4 linked regions of the Homo sapiens genome follow. The protein of the gene in region 3 binds, or shares a complex with, the protein of the main gene of each other region. Each region holds a gene or a part of one and is shown on either strand. Other genes may lie near its edges. The genes, in order: NUP93, CETN2, NUP107 and NUP153.

What was found.
Region 1: NUP107 (region 3) and NUP93 share a complex: the UniProt entries of both Homo sapiens proteins name them as parts of the nuclear pore complex.
Region 2: NUP107 (region 3) and CETN2 share a complex: the UniProt entries of both Homo sapiens proteins name them as parts of the nuclear pore complex.
Region 4: NUP107 (region 3) and NUP153 share a complex: the UniProt entries of both Homo sapiens proteins name them as parts of the nuclear pore complex.

The regions. Positions count from the first base shown.
Region 1 is NC_000016.10:56,725,873-56,733,128, forward strand, and holds the start of NUP93 (nuclear pore complex protein Nup93), read left to right. Parts: upstream 1-4,256; 5' UTR 4,257-4,339; intron 4,340-7,256. UniProt on the Homo sapiens protein: Plays a role in the nuclear pore complex (NPC) assembly and/or maintenance. May anchor nucleoporins, but not NUP153 and TPR, to the NPC. During renal development, regulates podocyte migration and proliferation through SMAD4 signaling.
Region 2 is NC_000023.11:152,827,728-152,835,154, forward strand, and holds the start of CETN2 (centrin-2), read right to left. Parts: upstream 3,031-7,427; 5' UTR 2,984-3,030; coding exon 2,981-2,983; intron 2,034-2,980; coding exon 1,875-2,033; intron 1,551-1,874; coding exon 1,422-1,550; intron 948-1,421; coding exon 810-947; intron 204-809; coding exon 114-203; 3' UTR 1-113. Other genes in the region: NSDHL (sterol-4-alpha-carboxylate 3-dehydrogenase, decarboxylating), read left to right, coding at 6,996-7,000. UniProt on the Homo sapiens protein: Plays a fundamental role in microtubule organizing center structure and function. Required for centriole duplication and correct spindle formation. Has a role in regulating cytokinesis and genome stability via cooperation with CALM1 and CCP110.
Region 3 is NC_000012.12:68,731,969-68,738,998, reverse strand, and holds part of NUP107 (nuclear pore complex protein Nup107), read right to left. Parts: intron 6,363-7,030; coding exon 6,260-6,362; intron 5,548-6,259; coding exon 5,387-5,547; intron 4,292-5,386; coding exon 4,166-4,291; intron 3,769-4,165; coding exon 3,655-3,768; intron 1-3,654. UniProt on the Homo sapiens protein: Plays a role in the nuclear pore complex (NPC) assembly and/or maintenance. Required for the assembly of peripheral proteins into the NPC. May anchor NUP62 to the NPC. Involved in nephrogenesis.
Region 4 is NC_000006.12:17,703,917-17,711,401, forward strand, and holds the start of NUP153 (nuclear pore complex protein Nup153), read right to left. Parts: upstream 3,010-7,485; 5' UTR 2,472-3,009; coding exon 2,361-2,471; exon of another isoform or gene 2,214-2,360; intron 1-2,213. UniProt on the Homo sapiens protein: Component of the nuclear pore complex (NPC), a complex required for the trafficking across the nuclear envelope. Functions as a scaffolding element in the nuclear phase of the NPC essential for normal nucleocytoplasmic transport of proteins and mRNAs.

The sequences.
Region 1 (7,256 bases), on a different chromosome or scaffold from region 3:
GAGCCCATTTGATGCATCATGATCACCCAGTCTGTAGTTTACATTAGGGTTTACTCTTGGTGTTGTACATTCTGTGGGTTCAAGCAAATTTGTAATGCCGTGTATCTAAAAGCCTCATCTTTTTAATAATTAAAGTTGACCATTGTCTTCACTGAACTTACACAGAAACAAAACCATGCAATATAATTCTGTATTCCTTGCCAAGTTACAATGTCATTGTGGAACAAAATGCAATGAACATGAAAATAAGACTTTCTCAGCTTCTTTGTAAATGGAACTGTTTAATATTATTTTGTTAATGGGTAGAATAAAATGTAATCTGATGGTGAAAACATTCTTCTTGACATTGTGGAAAATACCTCCCTATATTGCATGTGATGGAAAAGCAATTCGACTGGGAAAAGTTTACTGAATTAAGCTTACTGAATTCTGGCCTATTGACCTTATAATAAGCATGTTAGATGAGACGTTATAAGGGCTCAAGTAATACCTGCATCCTTCAGGATTATTTTGATTGCAAGTGATGTAAAACCTCAGTGAAATTGAGCAAAAAATAAAATTTTCTGGGTCATGCAACAAAACATTCCAGGGTTAGGGTTAGCTTTAGGCACAGCTTGATCCAGAAGCTGTGTCACAATGTCACTTGAGTACAGGCTCTCTCTCCATCACTACATGGCTCTCTTCTGTATTGTCTTCCTCCCCAGACAAATTCTTCCCTTGTGGACAATAAACAAACAGGCCGGGCATGGTGGCTCATGCCTGTAATCCCAGCACTTTGAGAGGCCAAGGAGGGCAGATCACTTGAAGTCAGGAGTTCCAGACCAGCCTGGCCAATATGGTGAAACCCCGTCTCTACTAAAAATACAAAAATTAGCTGGGTGTGGTGGCATACACCTGTAATCCAAGCAACTAGGGAGCCTGAGGCACAAGAATCACTTGAACCTGAGAGGCAGGGGTTACAATAAGCCAAGATTGTGCCACTGCACTCCAGCCTGGGCAACAGAGTGTAACTCTGTCTCAAAATAAACAAACAAACAAACAAACAAACAAAAATTTGAAAGGAATGATAATGCCTACAAAAACATCTTCACAGTTCTAATTTATTCCAGTCATAAAGATAAGTGTCTGAGCAGAACATCTTAAGAGTGCATTTTCTTGATCCTATTGGGTTCTAAACCAGTTCCTGAACCAGTCCCTGTGGCCAGGGTACTGCACTACTCTGCTCTGATTGGCGAGGCCTGAGTCACATGCCACCAATCAAAACACAGGGACTGAGATTTGGGGCAGGAACGCTCCACAGGGGAGTCCAAGTGTTAAAAGACGTCCCATTAGAGAGCAAATGTCTGGTAATACGGTATAGTGCGTTGAATACACATCCCATATACTCAATGAGTTCATCTGAAGACTAAGAATATTCAAAAGCACAATTCAACCAGACGAGAGTACAAAGGCCTGTGTTTGTTTGATATCATCATGCAGCCAAAAAAGGTAGAGTTATACACTTGGTATGTATAGAAGACATGCAAAATCTGTGTTACAATACAGGGTTCCATCAAATACTTCCTTTGAAAAACAGGATTCTGTTAAATAATGTTTGGGACCCAGTAGGACTAAATGAGGGAAGGTAAGGACTCTCCACCACCACCCAGCTCCCTTTTAAGTAGGAAAGAGCTTGAAAATCCCCACCTCTGAGAAAGGGGCCTTGCGGGGGCTCTGGGGCACATCTCAGAACAATTCTCAAGGCAAAGGCTCTTGAAAGATTCTGAGCTCAGATAAAGTGATGTTTAAGGAAGCTCTTCTGGCAAGGCATGAGCCAATGCACCCAGTTCTCTTAAAAACAAGAAAACAAAAAACAAACCAAAAAAACCAAATAATATATTGTTTATGCACAGATACATTTGTGATAAAACTATAAAACATTGGAATGATAAATATGAAATGTCAGATTGTGGTTATCTCTGGGGATAGGAAGGTATATGGGAAGACCATCTGGAAAACTGCAAGGTTTTTTAAGATGAGGTGTCACTCTGTTGCACAGGCTGGAGAGCAGTGGCACGACCAGGGCTCACTGCAGCCTTGACCACCTGGGCTCAGGTGATCCTCCCACCTCAGCCTCCCCAGTAGCTGGGACTACAGCTGCACACTACCATGCCCAGCCAATTTTTTTGTATTTTTTGTAGAGACAGGGTTTCACCATTTGCCCAGGCTGGTCTTGAACTCTGAGGCTCAAGCTACCCTCTTGCCTCAGCCTCCCAAAGTGCTGAGATTACAGGCGTGAACCACTGTGCCTGGCCACTTTTTCCATTTAACATTATGTTTCCAAGATTCATCCATGGTGTATCTGTGGCTGAAGCACACTCATTTTTCACTGCTGTGTAATGCTCCATTGCATAATATCCCACAATTTATTTATCCTTTTTTTTTTTTTTTGGTTAACAGATATTTGGCTTGTTTCAAGTTTTTTGCTAATATGAACTGTGCTGCTATGAAGATTCTTACTTATAACTCCTGGTGCATATGTGTAAGAGTTTCTCTAGGGCATATATCTAGGAGTTGAATTACTGGGTTTTACAATGTAGAAATATTCAGCTTTAAAAGGCAAGTGTCCGGAATTTTCATTTGGCAATATTGCACAAGCATTTGTCTATGTCATTAAAAGTGCTTTTTTTTTTTTTTTTTACATAAAGAAAAAGCAAAGTAAAAGTATAAAACATTATTCAGATGCAAGATACTATTATCTTTGTGGATATTCTCTGACCATAGCGGGGTCTGGTTACATATATAATAGCTTCAGGGCAAAGGCCACATTCATACATATTGTTAATCAGCACCAATTATTTATAGAGAACTCACAATATGCTGGTGTGAGGTATTAAAAATAAACAAAGCTGGACACTAGTTGCTATAGACTTCTTAATGTTTGTGTCCTCCCCCTTCAAATTTATATGTTGAAACTCTGCTCTCCATTGGGATGGTATTAAGAGGGGAGGACTTTGGTAGGTGATTGGGTCATGAGAGTGAAGCCCTCATGAATGGGATTAGAGCCCTAATAAAAGAAATATTGGAGAGCTCCCCTCACCCTTCTGTGTGTGGTTACAGGGAGAAGAGTGCTATATTAGTCCGTTCTCATGCTGCTGTGAAGAAATACCTGAAACCAGGTCATTTATAAAGAAACGAGGTTTAATTGACTCACAGTTCCGCATGGCTGGGGAGGCCTCAGGAAACTTATAATTATGGTGGAAGGCACATGTTCACAGGGCAGCAGGACAGGGAATGAGTGCAAGCAGGGGAAATGCCAGACGCTTATAAAACCACCAGATCTCATGAGACTTACTATCGTGAGAACAGCATGCCAGAAACTGCCCCCCATGATCTGGTTACCTCCACCTGGTCTCACCCTTGATATGTGGAGATTATGGGGATTATAATTCAAGGTGAGATTTGGGTGGGGACACAGAGCCAAACCATATCAAGTGCTATCTATGAATTAGGAGGCAGGCCCTCAGCAGACACTGAATCTGCGGGTGCTTTAATCTAAGGCTTCCCAGCCTCTAGAACTGTGAGAAAAAAATTTCTGTTGTGTATAAGCCATCCAGTCTATGGATGAGTCTGACCCCACTTGTCCCTACTCACCATCTTCCAGCCGCACACCCCTTCTTTCTAGTCTCCAAACACTAAGCTGGCTTCCCCTGGAGACTTCACTCTTGTTCCCTCTGCCTGGAATTCTTTGAAGCCAGAACTTTGCAAGCCCCATCCTTTCTCATCCTTCTTTATTCAGCTCAAGATGTCGCCATCTCAGAAAGGCCTCCCTTCAACATCCAAGCATTCTCTCTCCCATCACCCTGTTTTTTCTTCATAGCTCTTCTTGCAAAGTGCAGTTATTTATTACATTTTTGTTTCCCCTGCCAACCTGGGAACTCAATGAGGGCAGCGATCTTGTCTGACGTGGTCGCCACGGTGTTGCCAGTTCCTAGACTAAGGCCTGGCCCTTGGATGGCGCTCAAGAAGGAGTAAGAAATTCCTTTAACTTAGGGAATTCTGGAATCGCTTTCTCCCGGCAGAGCCGACTCTAACCAAGTGGGAAAGGCGAGGTCCGTGGCTGCCTGTGGCCCAGGGGTGACGGTTTGGCCCAAGGCCCCACCTCCGCCCCGCCCCCGGCCCCGCCCCTGTTCTTGTCCTCCCCCACGGGTCTCCATAAAGTTCATTTGGCGTCGCACCGCGCGAGGGCTTCTGGGAGCGGCCAGCCTTGGCCAATCAGGAAGCGGGGGAGAGCGGCGCGAGAAGCGGCGGCCGCGTCCTCAAGCCGGCACCTGAGCGGCGGAGACGGCTGTAGCACAAGGTAAGGGTGTGTCTGGTCGCGTCCTTGCGACCCTGGGCTTGTCCTTGAACCCAGGACCCCGTGACTGGGTGGAGCGCCGTCCCCACGCTCGGAACCCCGCCGCTCATACTTCCCGTTCTCCTCATGGCAGCCGGGCACGCCTGACGCCGGCGACACAACGCCTTGTCGAGCCGCCCCCGAGGCTTGGAGTCGGGCTGCATCCCTGGGGGTGCCTTTCATTCGTCCACTTTCTGAATGCAGAACCTAGGCCTCCCGACTCCCCCTTCCCCACTGTGGTGCCCTCGCGCCACGCCCCTGCCCTCACCTCCACCTCGTGCCCCGCGAGCCCACCCTGCCTAAGCCTGCGCCACAACGCCCCGCCTGCTTACCTTCCTGACCGTGCCCTGCCTGCTTGCCTACCCCTCGTGGACACACCCTGTAGGGAGGCGTTGCTCTGCGAGGGAAGGGGTCTTTGGGGCGAGGGGAACTTATCCCAACCCTTGGCTTACCTTTTGTACATCCAGGAGGATGCTGGTGATTGGAACCCAGGGGTGGCCCACCCTTCTCTGTGCTTACTCCATCCCGTTCCCTGCAGAGGCGATGCCCAAGTTCACTGGGTTTCTTTTGAAAAAATTATGGGGCCGACCCCATGGGTCCTTGGTGAAAGTATGAAAGACACGTTGACAGAGCCTCTGGTCTGGATTTGCCCTTCTGCCAGACGTGGGAAGGAGGTTTTATTTATTTAATTTTTATTTTGACCGAGTTGTCTTTCAGCAAAAGCGAGGGTCACCTTTTTGTATTCTTTCCAGGGTATGTGGGAGGGTATCCTCGGTCATCCTAGCTTTTCTTCTTTATTTTTTTTTCTTTAAATTCTCCTTTGTGCATTTGTGTTTGCAATATTTTTATTTTCATTGATGGTGATTTCATAGCATTAAATACATACATATCAGAGGCTAACAGATTCCGTATTTATATCTCCATCGCAGGTCTCACCCCTGACTTTTATCCAGCCACCCACTTAATATCTCCACTGAGATGGGTTATAGGCAACTCAAATTAAACATGCCAAGAGAGGGCTAGCAAGCTCCCCTTCATTACTCTCCCCAAACTGCTCCTGTTGCCTCTTTTTTCTCATCTCAATAATAGGAAAGACCTTGGCTAATAACTTTTGAGCCATCGTTGACTGCTGTCTTTCTTTTTCTTTTCTTTCCTTTTTTTTTTTTTCTTTTGAGACAGTCTCCCTCGGTCGCTCAGTCTGGAGTGCAGTGGTGCGATCTCGTGTCATCGTGTGACTGCAACCTCTGCCTCCCAGGCTCAAGTGATTCTCCTACTTCGGCCTCCCAAGTAGCTGGGATTACAGGCGTGTACCACCTCACCTGGCTAATTTTTGTATTTTTAGTAGAGACGGGATTTCACCATGTTGGCCAGGCTGGTCTTGAACTCCTGGCCTCAAGTGATCCGCCCATTTCGGCCTCCCACAAAAGTGTTGGAATTACAGGTGTGGGCCACCACACCCAGTCTTCTGTTTTTCACGCCACAAATAATACTTGCCACCCTGGGCCAGGTCACCACCTCTGGTTTGGATTATTGAAATAGTTTCCCATTTGGTCTTCCTGCTTCTGTCCTGGCCCCTGTTTTTTGCACAGCAGCTAGAGGGATCTTTTTAAAACACAGGCTGTCAGATCGTATCATTCCTTTACTTAAAAGAAAAAAAAAACCCTCCAATGGGTCCCCATCTCATTAATAATGATAGACAAACCCCTTTACAGTGAGCTATAAGGCTTTACATAATCTGACCCACTGTTACTTTCCCAGTCTCATTTTCTGCTCCCTCCCTTTCCAAACGTCAGACATGCTTTAGCCTCAGGGCATTTGTGCTTGCAAGTTAATATCCATGTAGTTTGCACTCACTTCTTCCAGGTCTTCACTAGGGAGGCACCTAGTGAGGCTTTCCCCATTTCCCGCCTCCCTTCATTGCTTTAGTTGTTCTTAGCACTTATATTTCACGTATTTTTCTTGTGTATTGTTGTCTTCCCCCTGTAGAATGTGAGTGAGGGGATTTTTATCTGTTTTGTTCACTGATGTGTTCCTAGCACCTAGGTCTGGCACACAGTAGGTGCTCAAAAAATATGAACTAGATGAATGTTACTGGCACTCTTGCAGGCATGGGGATGCAGTGGTGAATGAGACAGGCCTGCCCTCATTGAACTGATAAGCCTGTGGAGGGTACCACTAGCAATAAAAGCACAGATAGGAAGTGTGATGTCAGGGCTGTTTCTTAAAGGAGGACAGGGATATTTGAATAGAGACCTGCTTGAAATGAATGAGCAGGTCATGGGACTATCTGAGAGCATTGCTGGTAGTGGGTAGAGCAGGTGCAAAGACCGTGCAGTGTGAACAGCTGGAGATGTGGTGAGCCTGAGGGTCTGAACCAGCCTCTTCATAGACTGATGTAGAAAATAAGGTTGACAGAAAGATGGATGTGCCAAGGAGGGGGACAGGTTGGAGCAAAGATCCGAAGGTGAGAGGGCCCACTCCTCATGAAAAAGTTTATTTAAAGAATATGGAGTTAGAGGGAAGATCTTTCACTGGTGTGTTCAGGGAACAGGTCACTTTAATTCAACAAATATGTATCTGATCCTGTTATGTGCCAGACTTAATGCTGAGGACTCAGAGTTGAGCATCTGTGGACCTTACCCTATAGGAAATTTGCCACTAGAGAGGGAGACATATGTGTGATGAAATAATCACAACTGCTGCACTAGGGAAGAACAGTATAGAAGATTCAGAGTAGTGTGGGAGGGGTTGGCATAGGTGGGACTTTCCCAGCTGGCTGCAGCATACATAGGAGTTCCCCATGTGACAAGATAGGGTTGGGGATGTGTTATAGAGAGTGTGTACTTAGCATGTACAGGAGTATGAAGGGAGGAAACAGGCA
Region 2 (7,427 bases), on a different chromosome or scaffold from region 3:
ATAAAGGGAGGTCCGTGGGGGAAAAGTTTGTGTTCTCAAAAGCCAGATTTCACACCATGGCAGGCACTAAATCTAGTTACATGTGCTTGCAGTAGAAAAAGAAGACACTGATCTTAATAGAGGCTGGTCTTTTTCATGATGCGCAGGAACTCTTGCTCACTGACCTCTCCATCTCCATCTCGATCAGCTTCATCAATCATTTCCTATATGACAGTAAAGATTCAGGTTAATTTATAAACTAATGCCAAAAGGTGACTAAGTAATAGACTTTTTTTTTTTTAGAGATGGGGTCTCTATGCTGCCCACACTGGTCTCAAATTCCTGGCCACAAGAGATCCTCCTGCCTCAGCCTCCCAAAGTACTGGGATTATATGCATGATCCACTGTGCCTGGCAAGCAATAGACTTTTAATCTATGTGAATAGATAATTTGTATCTATGTGAATAGATCATTGTAGTCCACCCAATGCCAGTATGCTACTCCTGATAATAGCTTGGTTTCTGAAAAGTTATTTGAAAACCAACTCATACTTTGTCAAACATATCACCTGGGAGGGACCTTGAAGATTGCCTTGACTAGAGGGATTCCTGGAACCTAAAATAGTAAGCAAAATTGTGCATATGTGCATTTTTCTGGAAGCAGGGTTCATAGGTTTGTCTGACTATTAAAGGAGAATTAAGTTGTCTGCAGAGGGACAAAGTACACTGGCTTTTCTTCAAAGAGGTGCTCACACTAGGGAAAATGTAATGGAAAAGTCACAGAGGGCTCAAAGGTGGGAATTTTAAGTTCCAGTGTGATGCATTACAAACCTGCAGCTCCTCATCAGTCAGGTTCTCACCCAACTCCTTGGCCACGCGTTTCAGATTTTTGAACGAAATCTTCCCAGTTTCATCATCATCAAAGAGCTTGAAAGCTTTCAGGATTTCTTCTTTAGTATCTTTCTCAGACTTAACAAGTAGAACATAAAACACATGAGTAGGGGGACACCACGGTTGGTTACTACTGTCCTGTAGCCCTGCCACTGCCTGGTCAGGTCACCCTTTCCTTTTTAACAATGTAACTCGAGTCTAGACTTGCGGCAAGTGTCAGGAAGCCCATTTTGGCCTCAAAGAAACACCAGGCAAGCCAGGCACTCCATCCAAGGTGACGTTTGCTACCTATCGCTATATCTCTCCCTATCCCATATCTATTTCCTAACTGATTTGGAATTCTGTGGGAAGAGGTATCTGCTTGGAAGTCTTGAGAAAGAAGCACAAGGGCTTGTTTTGGGAGCCCAAAGTAACATGATGGGAGGGCAGGCCTCCTGATGCAGTTGCTACCTGGACTGCTCTGTGGTCACATGACTGTTTTAACAGGAAGACGCCATGGACCTCTGCAGATGACTGGGGCTCCATACCATGATAATTGTCTTAGCTACTTACCATTTTCTGGGTCATCACAGTTAAAAAGTCACCAAAGTTCATTTTTCCTGTCCCTTCCTTATCAATTTCACTTATCATTTTCTTAATTTCTTCTTTCTTGGGTTCAAAGCCCAGGGCCCTCATTGCCACCTATAAAGAAAACAGGATCGTCTCAATAAGCACATCTAAAGTAGCAGGAGCAAAAATAACAGTGTTGAGAGCATTAAGCCAGCATCTGATGTGGTCATGTTAATATGATTGGGGAACACTATGACATTGATCTAATTGATATTTGCAATCAATTTTATTGAATAATACTCAAAGTAAGTAAAGACAGGAAAACAGCACAGTACAACCTCCCCTGTTACTTACTGCAGGGAGAAGAGGGCAAAAGGGGTAGAGAGGTGATAGGGAGATGACAAGGAAGAGGCAGAGGAAAGGAAGGGCAGTACGGCAGGAATGCACAGAGCTTGCCTTCAGTTCTTTAACATCTATGGTGCCAGTTCCATCCGCATCGAAAAGATCAAAAGCTTCCCGGATCTCCTGCTTTTGCTCTTCAGTAAGCTCAGGCTTAGGGCTCATTCTTTTTCGCTGAGAACTTGATGCCATGTTTGCCTTCTTAAAGTTGGAGGCCTTTATATGTTATGCAATACACAAGCACAATAATATATCATACAGTCCATATTTACATAACATAGTTACAGACACCCATATGTATTTTTAAAGTCATTTATATAACCAATTCCAAAGCTTTGCTTAAAAAGAAAGATAACAGGGTTTACTGGCAAGAACAATGAATCTTTCCATGAACTTCTACCCCTCCCTTTTCTTTACTGTTGTTTCTAGAAGCAGGGAGATCACTTGTTCAGTAAGGACACCTCTTACTGAAAATCATCCCAAAAGAGAGCCAGTCAAGAAGATGACTGTGAATAACTAGAGATAATCAGCTCTTCCCGAACGTGGGGATCCTGGTTCTGAAAACAGTCTTACGATGCCCACTCCCAGTACTCCCCTTCCCAGTAAGTACTCCGACTTCCCAATTACTTCTAGATTTGGCCAAATATTAGTAAGTTGTTAAGATGTATATTGTGTCAGTACCGAGTAATAAAACTCAATCCATCTGGCACCTTCGTGCCTTCTCCAAGAAGCTAAAGCATCCCCTGAATGCCCCTGTATTTAAATTGTAAAAAACATTGTAACAGAACACGATACACCTTTTCCCAGCTGTGTGTGGAAATTTTGGCAGAATGAGGAGGCCAGGGGGCCAAGGTCTGAGAGAGTCAGGGGCCTGTGAGGGATTCGAGTCTTTTTTGCCCAGGGAGGTTCACCGAGGGGATCAGGGAATGCAAGGGGAGCCCGAGGGGCGGGTGTGGGCCTGTTGTGGGTGAAGAGGAGGCAGCAGCGAAGCGCAGGCCCAGTAGGTTGGTTAGCGTCTGTACCCTACTCTCCCGGGAAAGAGCTCAAAGGAAAGACTGGTGCGCTAAAGCCGAGAAAGGCGCAGGAGAGGCGGCGTGGCCGAGCTGGGGCCTGGGAAGGGCTCAGCCGCTGGGCGTGGGGCGCGACAGAGCGGCAGCACTCACCATAGCCAAAGGAGTCCGCTGCCGGTTGTTAGGCAACCGACGTGTACACTGACTCGGCGCCGTTCCCACCGCCCCGCGCGCGCAGCCCCGCTCCCCATTGGCCGTCCGCTCGTCGCCGCCTCTCCCTATTGGTGCAGGGCCGAAGAGGGTGGGACTAACCTGGCAAAGCCCCGGCCCAGCGCGGGGAGGGGCACGCTGGCGACAGAGCCCCGTCTTTATTGGGCAAGATCACGCCGTGAGCGCCAATTGGCTGAGTCGTCGCCGAGCTGGGCCAATCCTCTTGGTGGAGGAAGCTCGGCTGATTCTCGGCTCACGCGGGAGGGGAGTAAAGGGTGGCGGTCCGGGCCTGGAGTTCAGTGGGTGCAGCCTGCTTGCGAGCTGAGGCCAGACAGGGGGGCGCCTACGGACGGGTAAGAGTCGTGGCCTTGCCATTGGAGGTCACCCTGTGTCAGCGACTGGGCAGTGCGGGAGGGTGGGGAGCTACGGGGTCGCCCGGGTCGGGTGCTTTCTGGGTTGACCTAAGGCTGAGTTTAGGGACCGAGTGCATCAGAGCAGCCAGAAACGATTACCTTGCGTGTTGGAGCAGGGACTGTACTCACGGGGCAACTGAGACCCGGAGAGGGGAAGGGGTGTGCTGAGTGTTGTCGCAGAGGTCGGACGGCTGGGACCTAGGAACTGAATCCAGCCGAGGCTCGCTCTTTGAGGGTGGCCCTTCGAGAGCACCCCTAGACTGACCCAGATGTATAGGCCCCAGACCAGGTTCCAAGAGAGGATCACTTTAGATCTTACCTGGCTAAAAGCAGCCCAGGACGGTGAACTGGGGCCTTTGGGAACGGACTTTGAAAGGAGTGAGGGGGATGTGAGCGAGCATGAGGGGCGGGGAGAGGTCATCAAAATATACTCTTTTTGACACCCACACAATGCAGATAAGGAGGAGCATTCCAGGCCGAGACGCCCTCATCAGCAGAGTCACAGGAGTTTTGGAAGTGAGAGGTATGCTTGGAGAATTAAAAGGGAGCGTGTGCAAGGGCTGTGGACTGACATAGACCTGCAGAAGTGGAGCTGGAGGTCCAGTTTGCCCTCTTTAGCTATCCCCGTGGCTTTTAGCCTTCACCTGTTTTTCCTCCAGGCATAGGGGCAGTAATCTAGGGAGACAGAGGGCAGAGAGTAAGTTTCTCAGACAGAGAAAGGCCCGAGGCTTATTAGAACCTTTTAAATGGAGCTGCTGCCCTTTGCCCTCTTCTCTCTTCAGCAGTGAACAGATTCCTGACTTTTGGGTCATCATCATCCCCCCAAGTAGTACGAGCCAGAGTTCTCACTGTGATCTCCAAAGCTTGGCACGACGTGTCCCCTTCCATCGCTCCACAACTCTTCTCTCGTCTGGCTCACTCCAGCCCCAGAACACTGGCTTTGTGGTTGAACCTCATGTGCCAGCCACACTCCTGCCTCTCATCTTTGTCTCAGTTGTCCTCTCCGCCTGCCTCCTCTTAGGCACCCTATTTAAGTATTGCAGCCCCCAGTACAAACAAGCCACTCACCTTGCTCTACTTTTTTTTCCAACAGTTCTTATCCCCTTCTGACCTACTGTATATTTTGCTTGTTTGTTTTGCTCTTTGTTGTCCCTCCACTAGAAGGCAGGCTGTCTGAGGGCAGGCATCTTTGTTGTATTCACTACTGGTACTCCAGGACCTAGAACAGAGAGGGGCACATATTAGACAACTGATGAGTAGCTCCCCTGTTTCCCAGCTCTCACCTAGCTAGTCCTCCCTGCTCTACCAGGTTAATCTTCGTAGTGAACGGCCCTGGTCAGGGCATCTCCCTGCTCTTAAACCTTCAGAGCCTGAACCGTAAAGGGCTCCTTAGCCTGGCCTGTGATCCCTCTGCCCAGTTTTGCCCCTGGTAACCCTTCTAGCTTAATGTCCCTCCATACCTTGCTTCCCAGTCCGTCAACCTGCAGATCGGAAGCCTGACAGAGTACAAGGGAAAAACACAAGTTCTGCGCAGGCTGTGTGCAGGCTGTGTGACCTTGGGCAAGTCGCTTAACCTCTCTGAGCCTGTTTCTCATTTGTTGAGTGAGACCAGTACTGTCTACCTGATGGGATACTTTTGCATCTCAATGGGATGAACTACTTATATGTAAAGTGGCCTGATGTTGAGCAGGTCTTCAGGCAGTATTACAGTTGACCCCTGAACAACATGGGTTTGAACCTTGTGAGTCCATTTACAGGCAGATTTTTTTCTCATCTCTCCCACCGCTGAGCAGCAGGATCAGCTCCTCCTCATCTTCCTTCTCAGCATACTCATCAGGAAGACCGTGAGGATGGAGACCATGATGATCCACTTTCACTCAGTGAATAGTAAATATATTTTCTCTTCCTTATGATTTCATAGTAACATTTTCTTTTCTCTAGCTTAATTTATTGCTGGGACACAGTATGTAATACATGTAATGTACAAAATATTTGTTCATCAACTGTTTACATTATTGGTAAGGCTTCCAGCCAACAGTAAGCTATATTAGTGAAGTTTTAGGTGAGTCAAAAGTTATATGTGGATTTTTGACTTCGGGGCTCCGTGCCCCTAACCCCCACATTGTTCAAGAGTCAAATGTAGTTCTTGTCTCTGATTTGCTCTTGTCATTCCCCCCCGCCCACCATGCCTGGAGCCTTAGACTTGTCCAAAATCTCTTCCCTGCACTGCAGCCAAGGTGATCTTTCCAGTCGCAACACTCACTCCTGCTTCCAACTTCTAGGGGCTCCACCATCTTTCCCCCCTTGTAACTCCCTAGCTTGGCACACAGCCCCCACATGTTCTCAACTTTGCTCCCGATCTTGCTTCACACTTGCTGTGACACAGCTTGTCACTGTTATAAGAACATGCTGGCTCTGTGCCATCACTTTGTCCTTCCCACCCTGGCCATGGAATGTCTTTCAGGACACCATGCGCTCTGTTTTACTCACTCTTCTGGGGCCTTTTGAAGTCAGCTTAGGGATCTCCTAGTTGGGGCAGGCTTCCCTGAGCCAGCAGCCTGCATTGGTGCTCTGGGCTTGCCCTCATCAGAGTGGAAACGCACTTCTGTGACTCTTTGCTTGCTCCTGTCTCCCACCCTAGATGGCGGGCTCCTTGAAGGTTGGCAGTGTGTCTTTGTCAGCTTCTGCCTGGTAGTGGCTGGCATTTGATAACTTGTGAATGAGGAAATCAATGCATGAGGTGACACCTGGGGGTTCTTTTACAAGTTACAGCTCCCGCTTTAACCCTGGGGGTTTGTTTGAGCCTCACAGTAGCTCTGAGGTAGGGAAGAAGGACGCTGTTTTACAGATAAGGCCTCATGGCCAGCGGCAGCACGATAATTCACTCAAACCCATCTTCCATTCCAGGCTGTCTGCTGGGCCTCCAGGGGCTCGTGGTGTCCTACAGGGTGCTGAGTGTGAGGATGAGAGCAGAAACAGGTGCTGTGGAAGCGACTCACCTTCCCTGGGGAGGGGGAGGAAGTTTCACAGAGGGGGCAGTTCAGCTAGGCCTTGAAGGAAGAGGAGGCACTCACCGTGGAGAGGAGAGAGAAGGTATTCCATGCAGAGGAACAGCGTAAGCTAAGCTCACAGGCATGCTGCTGGGTTTCTGAGAGGTCTACCACAAAATAAAAGCTGGCGACTTTTTTTGTCCTAAAAGTAAATAGAGAAACAAACAACTGGTGGAAACATGGACACCGCAGGTCCGTGGAAGGACAAGGTCAAGCTGGGTTGCCCCAGCATAATCAAGGCTAAAGTGACACCTCTAAAGAGAAATGACCTCCAAGCTATTGGCCTCACTAATCCTAATCTGGGTATTTTCTTTCCCATATCACATCTTTGAATTCTGAAAGGGAGGCTTTATTGTTGTTCCTACAGGGCTCCTGCTTTGCTGTATTTTCTCTAAGAAATATGTCCATAATGAAGGTGTGTGCCGCCTCAGGTGAATCCTTCTCTTTGCATCTGATCATCTGGCCCAGTCCTGCAGAGGAGGCCAAGCATGAGGCATGAGGTGATGGGAAATAGGGGAATCCTCTTTTATAATCCAAGGCTTAGGCCCCCATTTCAGGATTCCAAAGAAAGTTCTAAGAAACATTACTTGGCATTCCTTGGATAGCCAAACTCTACTGAGGTGTTTGGGGAAGGGCAGTTTGCCTGGCATTGTCTGCCCATGGACTGAAGGGATGAGCTCTCAGTGGCCACATTCTAGCTTCCTGCACTGGACCTTGTGCAAGGGTGGGGCTCCGACAACCTTTCCCCTTTACAAAGATGTCACACTTCTTTCTAGAAGGACGGGACGCTCTCATCTCTCTCCCTAGTTTGAGACAGAATGTTCTCTCCTTTTCCCTCCAGGAAATGTTCCCCAGCAGGAAGGAGGAGGTTGGGCTAACTCGCTTCTCTCTTCTCGCTTCACATGAGGCGGCACACACCTTCATTAT
Region 3 (7,030 bases):
ACAAGATTAGGGGGTTAGTTTAAAAAAAAAAGAACAAAACAAAAGTATGTATACTCTTGTACATCAAGAAAAGAAAGATTTTATTCCAAGTGCAATAAGAAGGCATCAGAAAGTTCTGGGTAAGACAGTCGCATGTATTTTATTCTGAAAGGGTCACTAGTCCATCTGTATAAGGAACGATTGTATAAAGAACAGTGAGAAGCCACGGAAGACAGTAGAGGCTTGGACTAGAATGTGCTAGAGGTAGAGGTAGTGAAAGGTAGGTAAAGATGACCTGCCTGCTCCATTCTCTCTGCCATTCCTCTGTGCCACCAGCCCCAACACTAAGGGGACTATTCCAGTTATTTAAAAACTTGAGGGGTAGCTATACGAAAACAGCACATAATGCTAGGGCTATTGTGTACAGCCGTGCCTTGTACAAGGGTGGCTGGCCAAGCAAGTAAGTGGGGCTGAAATCTAGCCTGTGTTCTGTCTTACATATTGTGTGCACTTGCCATGGAACCTATCTATGTAAGGGAAGGGAATTCCAATTTTTTTTTTTTTTTTTTGAGACGGAGTCTCCCTTTGTTGCCCAGGCTGGAGTGCAGTGGCGCAATCTTGGCTCACTGAAACCTCCGCCTCCCTGGGTTCAATCGATTCTCCTGCCTCCACCTCCCTAGTAGCTGGGATTACAGGCGCGAGCCACCACACCCGGCTAATTTTTTGTATTTTTATTTTTATTTTTGAGACAGAGTCTCGCTCTGTTGCCAGGCTGGAGTGCAGTGGCGCAATCTCGGCTCACTGCAACCTCCGCCTCCCAGGTTCAAGTGATTCTTCTGCCTCAGCCTCCCAAGTAGCTGGGACTACAGGCACGTGCCACCATGCCTGGCTAGTTTTCTGTATTTTTAGTAGAGACAGGGTTTCACCATATTGGCCAGGATGATCTTGATCTCCTGATCTTCTGATCCACCAGCCTTGGCCTCCCAAAGTGCTGGGATTCAGGCGTGAGCCACCGTGCCCGGCCAATTTTTTGTATTTTTAGTAGAGACGGAGTTTCACCATATTGGCCAGGCTGGTCTCGAATTCCTGGCCTCACGTGATCTGCCCTCCTCGGCCTCCCAAAAGTGCTGGGATTATAGGGATGAGCCACCGTTCCCAGATAGAATTACAATTTTCTAATTCACATACAAGTGACACGTGTTAGCAGGGGCCTTGAACAATGCCCTACGTCATTGACTATGTAAGAGTATTAGGCTCAACAAAGGTGATTAAAATGTTATTAATCATTTAACTGTTCAAGAAATCTCTTTTCTGGATTAGTTTTAAAGAAATAATTGAGACTGAAGTTTTAAAGAAATAATTGAGACTGAATATTGATTTTAAAATCCCTGATGAAACAAAATGGTGTATCATTCATTGCCTTCCATCTCAACTCCATTTTTTTTTTTTTTTTTTTTTTGAGACAGGGTCTCACTCTGTCACCTAGGCTGAAGTGCAGTGGCACGATCTCGGCTCACTGCAACCTCTGCCTCCTGGGTTCAGGCCATTCTCCTGCCTCACTAGTAGCTGGGACTACAGGCATGCACCACCACACCAGGCTAATTTTTTTGTATTTTTAGTAGAAACGGGGTTTCCCCATGTTGTCCAGGCTGGTCTCAAGCTCCTGACCTCAGGTGATCCACCCACCTCAGCCTCTCAAAGTGCTAGGAGTACAGGCGTGAGCCACCACGCTTGGCCTCAACTCTAATTTTATGAGATCCCAAGACTATTTTGTGGCTTTCACTACCTAATCTACTTAATTAATAATTAGAATAGCAAAGATGTATGTATAAATAAAGCATTGAAGTCTTTTCAAAATTTAAGTGACACTTAATTAGCATTTTACAACATTAAAATTTTATCTTCAAGAGAATCAGCATGAATCAGATGAGAAAGGTTTTGCCAGAGGAACCTGTGGAAGGTTTAAAACGAGTCAAAGGAGTTCTATTACGAACGTTAGGATAAAAAGTGGAGACTTGGCTGGGCGCAGTGGCTCACGCCTGTAATCTCAGGCACTTTGGGAGGCCAAGGCAGGTGGGTCACCTGAGGTCAGGAGTTCGAGACCAGCCTGGCCAACATGGTGAGATCCCATCTCTACTAAAAATACAAAAATTAGCTGGGTGTGGTGGTGGATGCCTGTAATCCCAGCTACTTGGGAGGCTGAGGCAAGAGGATCTGGGAGGCGAGCCAAGATTGTGCCATTGCACTCCAGCCTGGGCGACAAGAGCAAAACTCTTTCTCAAAAAAAAAAAAAAAAAAAAAAGGTGGCGACACATTGACTCATGCCTGTAATCGCAGCACTTCAGGAGGCCAAGGTGGGAGGACAGCTTGAGGCTAGAAGTTCAAGACCAGCTTGGGCAACACAGCAAGATCCTGTGTCAAAAACAAACAAACAAAAAAGCCAGGCATGGTGGTGTGTGCTTGTTGTCCTAGCTACTGGGGAGGCTGAGGCAGAAGGACTGCTTGAGCCCAGAAGTTTGAGGCTGCAGTGAGCTATGATGAAGCCACTGTCCTCCAGCCTGGGTGATAGAGCAAGACCTTGTCTCTAAAACAAAAAAAGAAAAAATAAAGTGGAGACATTTAAGATAATTACTCCATCAGTAATAGTGGCAAATAGGGGCTCAAATTTAGTTCGCTGTCCTGCCTGTATTCTTTTTCCTCCTTCTGGTCAGAGAAGACAGGCTAAAAAAAAAATGCAATAGCTAAAATTAAAGAAAAAGTACTAAATAGATGAGGGTATGAAGAATGGCAAAAGGAAAGATACCAAGAACACTTACTGTTTTCTTTGTTCAAAATAACACATCAAATATCCAAGAAGCCAGTATTTCCAGCTCTCAGACAGCTCCTCAGGTCTACAGAGGATAAACTAAGCTACTCACTGTTTCTGTCATGCACCAGGGTCAGGCTGCAATGTCTTTCCCTTATATGACTATTATCTCAGTATCCTTCCTTTCTCCCATCTCAGCTCATCCAAATTCTACCAGTATGTTCAAGATTCAGTCAAATGCTATACATTTCAAGCATACGTTCCAGTTCCCTTTCAGGTGAAAACAATCTTTTCTTTTCCTGGACTCAGAAAATACTTAACCTGTGCCTTTCTTATGGCACTTGATACTTCTGTAGCTGGTTCTCAACACAGGCTATATATTATATTAAAGCACTGCAAGTGATTAAAAAAACAAAAATAAACCCCAGCCCTACCTCAGACCAATTACACCATAATCTCTGGGAGTGGAACCCTGTAGTGTTTTTAAAAAGTCTGCCAGGTCATTAAAATGGACAGCCCAGAGGTGAGAGCCCCTACCTTAGCTATGCCTTACTGATACTACTCGAGTTATCTTTATATCTGTAAATGGAGTGACATACATGTATAATTAAATTTTTAGGTCCAGAATTTTTTAAAAATTAGATTTTTGTATCCTCTGTGAACATAGTAAATGTGAACTAATAGTTTATCCAAGAATCAAATATTCCCATTCCCTAGGTAGTATTTTCAGTTTAGCTTAAAACATGGGATTTAGCTATATCTACAATTATGTAAAATCTGTAGATGCTCCCATTTAGAGACAGAATATTTTTAAAAAAGAACATGGTGAGTGTTTTGGTTTTTGGCTATAAACAATGCACACAGCTTACCTCTCTAACATCCACCATCCACCCTCCATCAACAAACAACAAGACGTTATACATTTTCTCCTTCACATCAGCAGTTAGGGCATCCAAATGCCCTTTCCAAATACCAAAATCCATCTGCAAAACAAACACAAGGCAGACATATAATGGATAAAACCCAATAAATAATGTATTTGGAAAATACAGACAGGAACATACATATAGAACATCATTCTAAAGAGTTGATGTTTCAGTCTGCCAAGTACAAAAATAAGTATCAACAGACTGCAGTTAAGTAAAACGCTAAAATGTTAACTTTGTAAATGAACGCTCATGTCACCTGAAGGCATTTTTCATGTTTGGTTAATTACCTACAGAAAAGTAACTAAACAGATTGCATCTTCCAAAGCAGGACATTAACAGGGAGATTACCTGTTATGATCGAAAGATAGTTGCTGAAGAAACGATCTCTTTAAATATACAACACACATTTATAAGATGCAGTAGGCACATCCTAGATCCATATTTAACTTACTTCATATTTCTTTTCTTTGTGTTCATGAGCCACTTTCTCAGTAAAAGTTGGTTGAGGTATCAAAGCAGGTTTTTGTGGAACTGAATTCATATGCTTAAACCACTCATTAAAGGTTTCATGGGCTTCCTAAAATGTGAAATAAAAAAACCAAAATATAAAATAACAAAAGTTTTCACTTTTATCGTTTCACCAACATTTTTAACATTTGATTCTTAGAAATAATTTTGCAGCATCAAGAAATAAAACTGTTCAATATATATTTTTTTCCCTCCAAAAATTCATATCATGAATAAATGTTTTGTCAAGTGACAAACAAGGTATATATATTGTGTTTTCTGGCATATTCTCCAATCTGAGCACCCTGATCGTATATGTATCTTGACATTCATCGCTCTGTAACATATGCATGTGTACTTGTCTTCTTAACTAGCCTATTAGTTTTTAGAGGGCAAGGATAGGGTGCTATCCACAGATTTGGCCCTACTACCTAACCCACTGTAATTACATAATTATTTATTGAATAAAATTTTTTTTTTGTTTTTGAGACAGGACCTTGCTCTGTCACCCAGACTGGAGTACATGATCTAATAAAGACAAGGCATGATCTCTGCTCACTGCAGCCTCAACTCCCTGGGCTCATGCGATCCTCCCACCTCAGCCTCTGAAGAAGCTGGGACTACAAGTACATGCTACCATGCCTGGCTAATTTTGTTTTATTTTTTTGTAGAGATGCAGGGGTCTCACTGTGTTGCTCAGGCCAGTCTTGAACTCCCAGGCTCAAGCAATGCTTCTGCCTTGGCATCCCGAAGTGTTGGGATTATAGGCGTGAGTCACCGCATCTAGCCTTGAATGAATTTTGAATGAGTATGCTGCTATTTTAGTCATAACAAACCTAGAGCATCTTGCTTTTTCTCAGTTATTGAAAAAAGCAGAAATTTAAAGCTGAGACATGCATCACAAAATCTTAAGAAAACATAACTTCCAGACATCATAGACACTATCTACCATGTGAGATGATCTTGGTTGGTTAGCATTGATTAGAGAATCATGCTAATGAAGATAAGGTCATGAAGTCAGTCCCCTTGTGGATGAGTCAGCACTATAGTCACAAGAGAGGTAAGATGAACCAACACTACTTCTAGAAAAAAGTTCAAACTCTGAGAGTGAATCCGAAAAATCATCATGAAGTAGGCACATCTGTGGCTTTCTTTACAGTCTCACCAAATAAGCTCTGATGCACAAATGTTCTCGGATAGCATTATCATCTTCAGCAGGAAGTGGACTTTCCATTCCTTGTTCCTCGCACTGATTATAGATTTCTGCTATAGAATCCTGAGGAATTTTCACAAATACTTCTTTTGCAGCTTCGTGCTTTTTTGATGCTGTGAAAAAAGATACACAATTTTGAATGCCTACGGACTTCTCTGTAATGGTTTCTAAAGGAGTCAAATCACTGGTTTACCAATTTTACAGTGACCTGTAACTATTTCAGGGCCCAAGGCACTCTGTTAAAGGTCTTGGTGATCTTTCTACCTGATAGACTGGCTTTTTCGTATCTCAATGTGATACTATCACAAAAGGATACATCAAATGCAGTTACTTTTACATACTTTTATGTCTTAAAGCAATTCATTTTTCAAAGTCGGATAGCCTTGAGATTATTTGCAAAATTGATTAGGACAATGAAAATTCACCATTAAAATATATTTTGTTTCATAATACCAGGTTTGATAGATAAAGAGTGGCTGGTTTTCTCCTCCCTATGGAAGGATCAAAAACAAAAAGCAACCCCCCACCCCAAATTCAAAAATACACGAATTTGAACAAAAACGTTTTAAAAAAGAATAAAAAATCTGGGTGTGGTGGTTCACGCCTATAATCCCAGCACTTCAGGAGGCTGAGGTGGGAGGATTGCTTCAGGCCAGGAGTTCGAGACCCGCCTAGGCAACATAGTGAGACCCCATCTCTAGAAAAAATTTTTTAAAAATTAGGTGGGTGTGGTGGTGGGTGCCTGTAGTCCCAGCTACTTGGGAGGCTGAGGTAGGAAGAAGAATGGAGCCCAGGAGTTTGAAGCTGCATAAAAATATACTATACCCAAGAATTTTCTCATAATTGCATTGCCTTGTTTCAGTGCTTCTGCCCTCTGCGCTGGGTCAAATACCAACCAGTCAATTACATCAATTTTTAAACGATCCTCCTATTTATTAAAGGGGAAAAAAAGAAAAAGGAATATCAGAGTTTTTTTTTTAAAGATATTCTACAAATTAGTAGAATTAACTTACACCTGTACTTCCAGTAAACATCATTTTCTCTCAAGTTATACAAAATTATGAAAGCATCTAACTTTCCTTAGTGTATTTTCATATTTAACAGCTCTCTATTAAATTATAGAAAATACTGCTGGGCATGCTGGCTCACACCCGTAATCCCAGCACTTTGGGAAGCCCAGGCGAGCGGATCTCTTGAGCTCATGAGTTCGAGACCAGCCTGGACAACATGGCAAAACCCCTTCTCTACAAAGAATACAAAAAATTAGCCAGGCATGGTGGCACATGCCTGTAATCCCAGCTACTCGGGAGACTGAGGGAGGGTGGCTTGAGCCTAGAAGGCGAAGGTTGCAGTAAGCAGAGATAGCGCCACTGCACTCCAGCCTTGGTAACAGAGCTAGACCTTGTTGTCTCAAGAAAATAAAAATAAAAATAAATTATAGAAAATATTAATCTGGAATTATATATTGTATGCCTTACCAACTTAACCACGTGATTCCTTTAAATGTTACTCTAAAATAGTTTTCTTAGATATAACTTTCTATTCCTTTCTGAAAATATGAGTAAGCAAGCTACATAAGTTAGTGATTAATCAAGT
Region 4 (7,485 bases), on a different chromosome or scaffold from region 3:
AGACACCTTGGATCATAGGTGTTATGCTGTTAAGACATCATCTCCCCAAAATTAGATTTTTATTTTATCTAAGTACATTTAAGCTGTGATCAGGGGCCGGGCGCGGTGGCTCACGCCTGTAATCCCAGCACTTCGGGAGGCCGAAGCGGGGAGATCACGAGGTCAGGAGATCGAGATCGTCCTGGCTAACATGGTGAAACCCCGTCTCTACTAAAAATACAAAAAATTAGCTGGGCGTGGTGGCGGGCGCCTGTAGTTCCAGCTACTCTGGAGGCTGAGGCAGGAGAATGGCATTAACCCGGGAGGCGGAGCTTGCAGTGAGCCAAGATCGCGCCACTGCACTCCAGCCTGGGTGACAGAGCGAGACTCCGTCTCAAAAAAAAAAAAAAAAGCTGTGATAACTTCAGACATCTGGAAAATATTAATTCCCTTCTAACCTCTATTCAGACCATCCAATGACCTATATTTAAAACAAGTCATTTTTCTACATGTCATACAAGAAAATCTAAGCACTCAAAGGCATTCATAGGAGAAAAGAAAGCATGCATGTGTAACTTCCATTCTACAGACGGATTAGGTTAAATGGCCAGGCTTGTGACCTGAATTCTAATCTTAAATCTGCTCGCAAATACCCCTTTTCTTCACAAATTTGAAAACTAAGCACTTTATGTACATATCTGGGGGAAAACTGGTGGGAGTAGTAACAGTGCCAAACCTAACCATCAGTAGAGAACGACTGAAAATACCTGAACCACAATTTTTACTACTCAAACATTTCCCTCAAAATAAAAAACATTTAAGAAAACTAGAAGACAAAAAAAAAAAAATTCCTCAAATCTTTACTTTTTTTTTTTTTCTTCGAGACAAGAGTCTCGCTCTGTCGCCCAGGCTGGAGTGCAGGGGCAAGATCTCTGCTCACGGCAAGCTCCGCCTCCCGGGTTCAAGCCATTCTCCTGCCTCAGCCTCCCAAGTAGCTGGGACTACAGGCGCCTGCCACCACGCCCGGCTAATTTTTTGTATTTGTTAGTAGGGACGGGGTTTCACCGTCTCTGGATGGTCTGGATCTCCTGACCTCGGTGATCCACCCGCCTCGGCCTCCCAAAGTGCTGGGATTACAGGCGTGAGCCAACGCGCCCGACCCAAATCTTTACTTTTAAAAATCTGTTGATAATGACACAATTTAACAACATCAACCATGTGAAAGTGTGTAATCTTTATTAGCATCCAGAATAAAGTAATCTAGGAAGTCTACCTTTAACAGTAGGCAACAAGTTATCAGATCCTTTTGCTACACTTTTGTTTTTCAACAAATTTAAGACACACACTTCCCACCTCAGTATCACTGATAAGTGGCTTTATTAAAATAAGTTAACATTTTCCTATTCAATACTTCTAACAATCAATATTTTAAAAATGGAATTTTCTCAGAATCAACTATCTCATTTACAATTAGGATAATCCTTTTTTATAATTTTAAACATCCAGGAGTTCATACAGTGGCTAAACTATAAGACCACCAACATTCCTGGAGTGTCAAAAGTAACTATACTTCTAGAATACGCCTCATAATATTAAAATATTTTGTGTATGAGATCAGAGCTGGAGTCCCGGTCAACTGTGGAGAATGGCCAATTCCAGCCTCCAAAATAAAGGCGGGGGTGGCGGTGTTGGGGGGGGGGAGGGGAGTCGCGCAGCAGAGAAAAGACGTAAGGGTGGAGAGGGACTTTCAAAATGCCCCAGTGCCACGGTTAACTATAACCTGGTTAATAAAATCTAAGCCAATGCTCTCAAGACGAGGAGGGCCACAGGCAGGGGAAACCGAGAATTAACTCATAGGCTGAGACTAAGTTATTCCACTTTCCATGTAACAGCGCCCCCCACAACTCCCCGTCTGCCCCAGAGTTAAGATTCCAAGGGGCAGCCCCCCCTCCTCAAACACACTAAAGAAGGGACACCAGAAAACAGCAAGTATAAGGGCCATCAACCACATCTTTTCCTTTCTCCCTCGAGAGAACATGAGTAATACCCTCAAATTCCAAATCCCCGCCAAAAAATAAAGAAACGCGCGCATCATGGGCCTACAATTTCTTTTCCCGCCCAGAGCCTGCCTGGGAAAGCCCCTGACCCAGAGAGTTGGGGGAAAGGCGGCCCAAACCACACGTGTGCGCCGCAAGGCTGGGCCTGTCTCAGCCCACTTCCCGTCGCCACCCCCAACGGCCTGAGCTCCCCCGGAGCCTCACTCGGGCCTTTCCTCAGGCCCTCCTGTCTGCTCCACGTGGGGCGCCGGGGCCTCGAACCGCCCGTCCCCTCCAGCCGAGTTTCCCCACCCGCCAGGCCACCGCGGCGTCGGGGTCCCATACCTGATGCTGTTGTCGCCCCTGCTGGTAAGGCTTAATTGGCCCCTGGTGGCAACGCCGCGTCCGGATCTTGCCGCCACCGCCCCCTCCGACTCCTCCGGCTCCCGAGGCCATGGCGGAGCCTCCGCCGCTTCCCGCTCCGGGGCGGGTAAGGGGGCGGGAGAGGCAGAGGCGGAGGCCTTAGAGAGCCTCCCCCGCCGCCCGGCCCCGGCCCAAAAGTCCGCCCGCGCTGTCCACACAGTGGGCACAAGCACCCCAGGAACCGCGAGGTTGCGAGCAGGAGCGGAGAGAGGGTGAGTGCTGGCAGCGGGGAAGGGGGTGGCGGCCGCAGAGGCCGAGGAGGCTCCGGTCCGGCCGCCTCTGCGGACCCCCGCCTCTGTGTGTGTCACGGTCTCTATGGAGATCTCCCGCAGAGGACAGCACGAACAGTTCCCCGCGGTGCTGAGGCCTAACTCGACCGCCGACTGGTGGGAGTTCTTCCGTCGCCCTAGCCGTAGCTGCCGCAGTTGAAGCCGCTGGCGACGCCCGCCTACCCCTCCCCTGTGCGCACAGCGCCCGCCCCGCCGCCGTCGTCGTCGTCGTCCCTGCAGCCTCCGCCGCCGTTGCGCCTATTACCCCTGCTAAGGCGGCTGCCGCGGTCGCGAGCCAGAATGTCGTCACTCATCGGCGCCCGACGCATTTGCATCATCATGCTGCGACGAGCTGATAGGCAAAGAGGAAGGGCTGGTCGAGTCCACGCTCTCGGCCGCGCGGCACGCTGGGAAACGTAGTTCAACAACGGAACGCGGCTTCTCGGAAAGGAAGAGGGACGGGGAAGGAGATCTCCGGGGCGCCGCAGAGGCACAAAGCCAAGGGGTACTTTTGCTGTTCTTGGCTGTAAATTAGACTTTGAAAAGACACTTAACATAAAAACAGTAACCTCTTCCCATTCTCCTTCTCCCTGTCGGTTGGTTAAGTAGGCAGGAAGTAAGCAGACAGTAAAATCAAAGACAAGAGCTAATGATTTAAGAAGGAGGAAAAAAAAATCTGTGGTTGAAAAATAAAGTCCATGATCCTTAGAATTAGAAAATATATACGGCTTCATTAATGTTTCTTTAAACATATAAAGGTTTTGTTGCAGACACACGGGGCTGGAATTCTGGTTCTGCCACCCAACCTATTTGACCTTGGATGAATCAAAACCGTCTGAGCCTTAGCTTCCTCCTCCATAAAATGGGAGCTTTAAAATCCACCTTATAAAGCTGTTGTGAGGAGCAGACGTGATCATCTATGGAGAGCATGTATATTTGCTAATAGACGAAAAATGCGATGAATGATTACAATTATAACCCATGCAGTCAGCTAACATTAGGGGTAAGTGATATATCCTTAACAATAAAAGTATACTATATTTGCTCCAAATATTTAGGAAACTGAGTAAGTGAGCTAGACTCAAAGACTGAATCCACAAAATGTATATTCTAGGAGTTGACGATTAGAAAGGTCCTGGTGATCACATAGTCCAACCCTCTCATTCAACCAACCAGACAAGATGTCCAGAGAAATTTAGGTGGCACAATCAATGACACTGAGATGGGTAATCAAAGCCAGGACTATAACCCAACTTTTCTGTAAGAGCTAAAGACAAATAGCCAAATGATTAGGGAGGAAAAATATGTTGTGAAAAATCTTAGACTTACTATAAATCTTTTTTTTTCTTTCTTTCTTTCTTTCTTTTTTTCTGAGAGACAGAGTCTTGCCCTGTCGCCCAGGCTGGAGTGCAGTGGCGCGATCTTGGCTCACTGCACCCTTTGCCTCCCAGGTTCAAGCTATTCTCCTGCCTCGGCTTCCTAAGTAGCTGGGACTACAGGCGTGCACCACCACGCCCAGCTGATTTGTGTATTTTTAGTAGAGATGGGGTTTCGCCATGTTGGCCAGGCTGGCCTTGAACTCCTGACCTCAAGTGATCCACCCGCCTTGGCCTCCCAAAGTGCTGGGATTACCCGTGTGAGCCGCCACGCCCAGCCTATTTACTATAAATCTCCCACTTACTAGCTGTGTAGCCTTGGGGAAGTTACTGATCCTGTTTCTTTCTTTTTTTTTTTTTTTTGAGACGAAGTTTTTTCCTCTTGTTTTGCCCAGGCTGGAGTGCAATGGCGCAATCTCAGCAACCTCCACCTCCTGGGTTCAAGCGATTCTCCTGCCTCAGCCTCCCGAGTAGCTGGGATTACAGGCATGTGCCACGACGGCCGGCTAATTTTGTATTTTTACTAGAGATGGGGTTTCTCCATGTTGGTCAGGCTGGTCTCGAACTCTCAATCTCAGGTGATCTGCCCACGGCCTCCCAAAGTGCTGGGATTACAGGCGTGAGCCACCGCGCCCAGCCCACTGATCCTGTTTCTAAGCTTCGTTTTTTTCATCAGCAAATAGAGCGAATATTGACCTCACAGGGTAGTGGTCTGGTGAAAGGATTAATGTATATCTAGTTCATAGTAACTGCTTAGATAGAAAGCATCCAATATCAACCATCAATCAGATATAAATAATTAGTTCCAAGACATTTATACTATCTCCACAATCAAACTGCACAATTCAGGTTCATTGTTTAAATCATACAAGTGAAATTGTAAAGCCAGTCTTCTAGTACCTTTGAACTTGTACCTTTCAGCGCCTAAAGAAACTATGCTATACCAAGCATAGGTGTACACATCAATGGCTTTCAGTGGCACCTCTGACCATAACCATCAAGATCAAGACAAGTTGCCAAATATGATAAACAAAATTAATCTATTTTCCGCTGTCTCATCCTAGCTTCATGCCTCCTCCCACCACTAACTTCCCACTAAATTCTCCAGGTATGCCCCCTCTTCCTCCTGAAGCACTTCATCTTTCTTAAAGACAGTTGTTTCCCTCAGGTGCTATCTTCCTCCTATGCAGAAATCCTATTCTTCCACAAATCCATAGCTAGATATTTGACAGCCAAGTAAAGTAATTCACGATAAGCTAACTCATAGGGAAGATCTGTACCTGAATCTTTAATTGGGTTATACGTAGAGGAGATTAAACCATAGCCACATCCCATCTGCCCTCTTCACTCTATGAGACCCAGAGTTTCCACCACAGAACAGAGGACTGACTGGAATCAAAGCTCACCCCTTTCTTGGAGGCTATTCTTTGATGTGCTGGACACCCTTCACAGCCAACCTTTGAAAGGAAGAGAGACGCGAAAGAATTGGGCCAAATGTAGACAATGCTTCAGAAATAGAAGATTGGTAGAACTTGAGGAGATATGGGAAAATCCACATTCCTTTTACCCATGCTCTCAACTTTTTACCCATTTCCACAATTATTTTATTTCTTGGAAGTAAAATAGTATTTGAGGGAACTATAATGCATTAATCTCACATTCATGTGATTGAGTCATTGGAAGCCGTGCCAGGCTTGAGAGCAGAGAAGGAATAAAGAGACAGGAGGAAATCTGCATTCAACCTGGACCTAGTTTTTTCAGCCAAATAAATGGCATATTGGGAGACACTGCAATTCATGAAAAGCTTGTTGCTACAATAGTCCTCCTCTGCCAAGAAACTTCTTTATTTTGTTCCCCATATAATATAGTAGAAAGTGGCCGAGCACAGTGGCTCACACCTGTAATCCCAGCACTCTGGGAGGCCAAGGCGGGTGGATCACTGGAGGTCAGGAGTTCGAGACCAGCCTGGCCAACATGGTGAAACCTGTCTCCACTTAAAAAAAAAAAAAAAAAAATTAGCTGGGCGTGGTGGTGCTCACCTGTAGTCCCAGCCACTCGGGAAGCTGAGGCAGGAGAATCGCTTGAACCATGGAGGTGGAGGTTGCAGTGAACTGAGATCATGCCACTGCACTCCAGCCTGGGCCACAGAGTGAGACTCCATATCAAAAAAATTAAAAAATTAAAACAACAAATATATATATATATGTATATATATATATGTAACCAGCTGCCAATTATAAATTAGCAAATAGGCTGCTGACCCATCTCTAATAGATAAGGAGTATCCACTAATTAAAAGTGAAATACAATTTAGTCTAAACCCAACCTAGATTGAAAAAGAGCCATCATACATTCTTCAGAAGGTACTAATACAATTCTGGCCAAAAGAATGTTTAAAGATGACAAGTACAAGAAGTTACGAAATTTTATGTAGTTATTCCACCTTACCAAAACAAAATGAGGTATCTGCTGTGATGTCTATTAAAACAAATTATCACACTCATGCACAGCATAACAATGTTTCAATCAACAATGGGCCCAATATACAATGGTGGTCCCATAAAGAGCTGAAAAATTCGTATTGCCTGGTGATACTGTCTTTGTCCTAAGGTCTTATTGCAACACATTACTCACGTGTTTGTGGTGATGCTGGTATAAACAAACCTACTGTGTTGCCATTTGTGTAAAAGTGGAGTATGTACAATTATGTACAGTACAGAATACTTCATAATGATAAGTGGCTGTTTCTGGTTTATGTATTTACTATACCTTTTTTTTTTTTTTAACAGGCACTCCTTGCCATTTCCTGTTGCTACCATACTTTATTATTTTAAAGTGTATTCCTGGTCAGGCATGTGGCTCACACCCATAATCTCAGCACTTTGGGAAGCCAAGGCAGGAGGATCACTTGAGGCCAGGAGATTGAAACCAGCCTGGGCAACATAACGAGACCCCTTCTCTACAAAGAAATGAAAAAATTAGTTGAGCTTAGTGGTGTGCACCTGTAGTCCCAGCTACTAGGGAGGCTGAGGCAGGAGGATCACTTGAGCCCAGGAGTCTAAGGCTGCAGCGAGCTATGATCTCACCACTGCAGTCCAGCCTAGGTAACAGAGTGAGACCCCATCTCTAAAGAAAAAAATAAAGAAAATGAAGCTATTGGGTTTATTTATTATTTATTTATTTATTTATTGCCTGTTTGCTTGTATTTTAGGGAAAGAAGGGCCACACAACGGAAAGATATTTAAGGATGTAAATCATTGTATTCTCATTAACTTACTGTGTTCTCTCTCTATTGGGAATAAAGTAATATTTAAGACTAAATTAACTAATATGAGCAAATTTTGATTAACTACATATATCACTTGATTCCAACATGCCATATATTTCCTCTTCCTGACTACA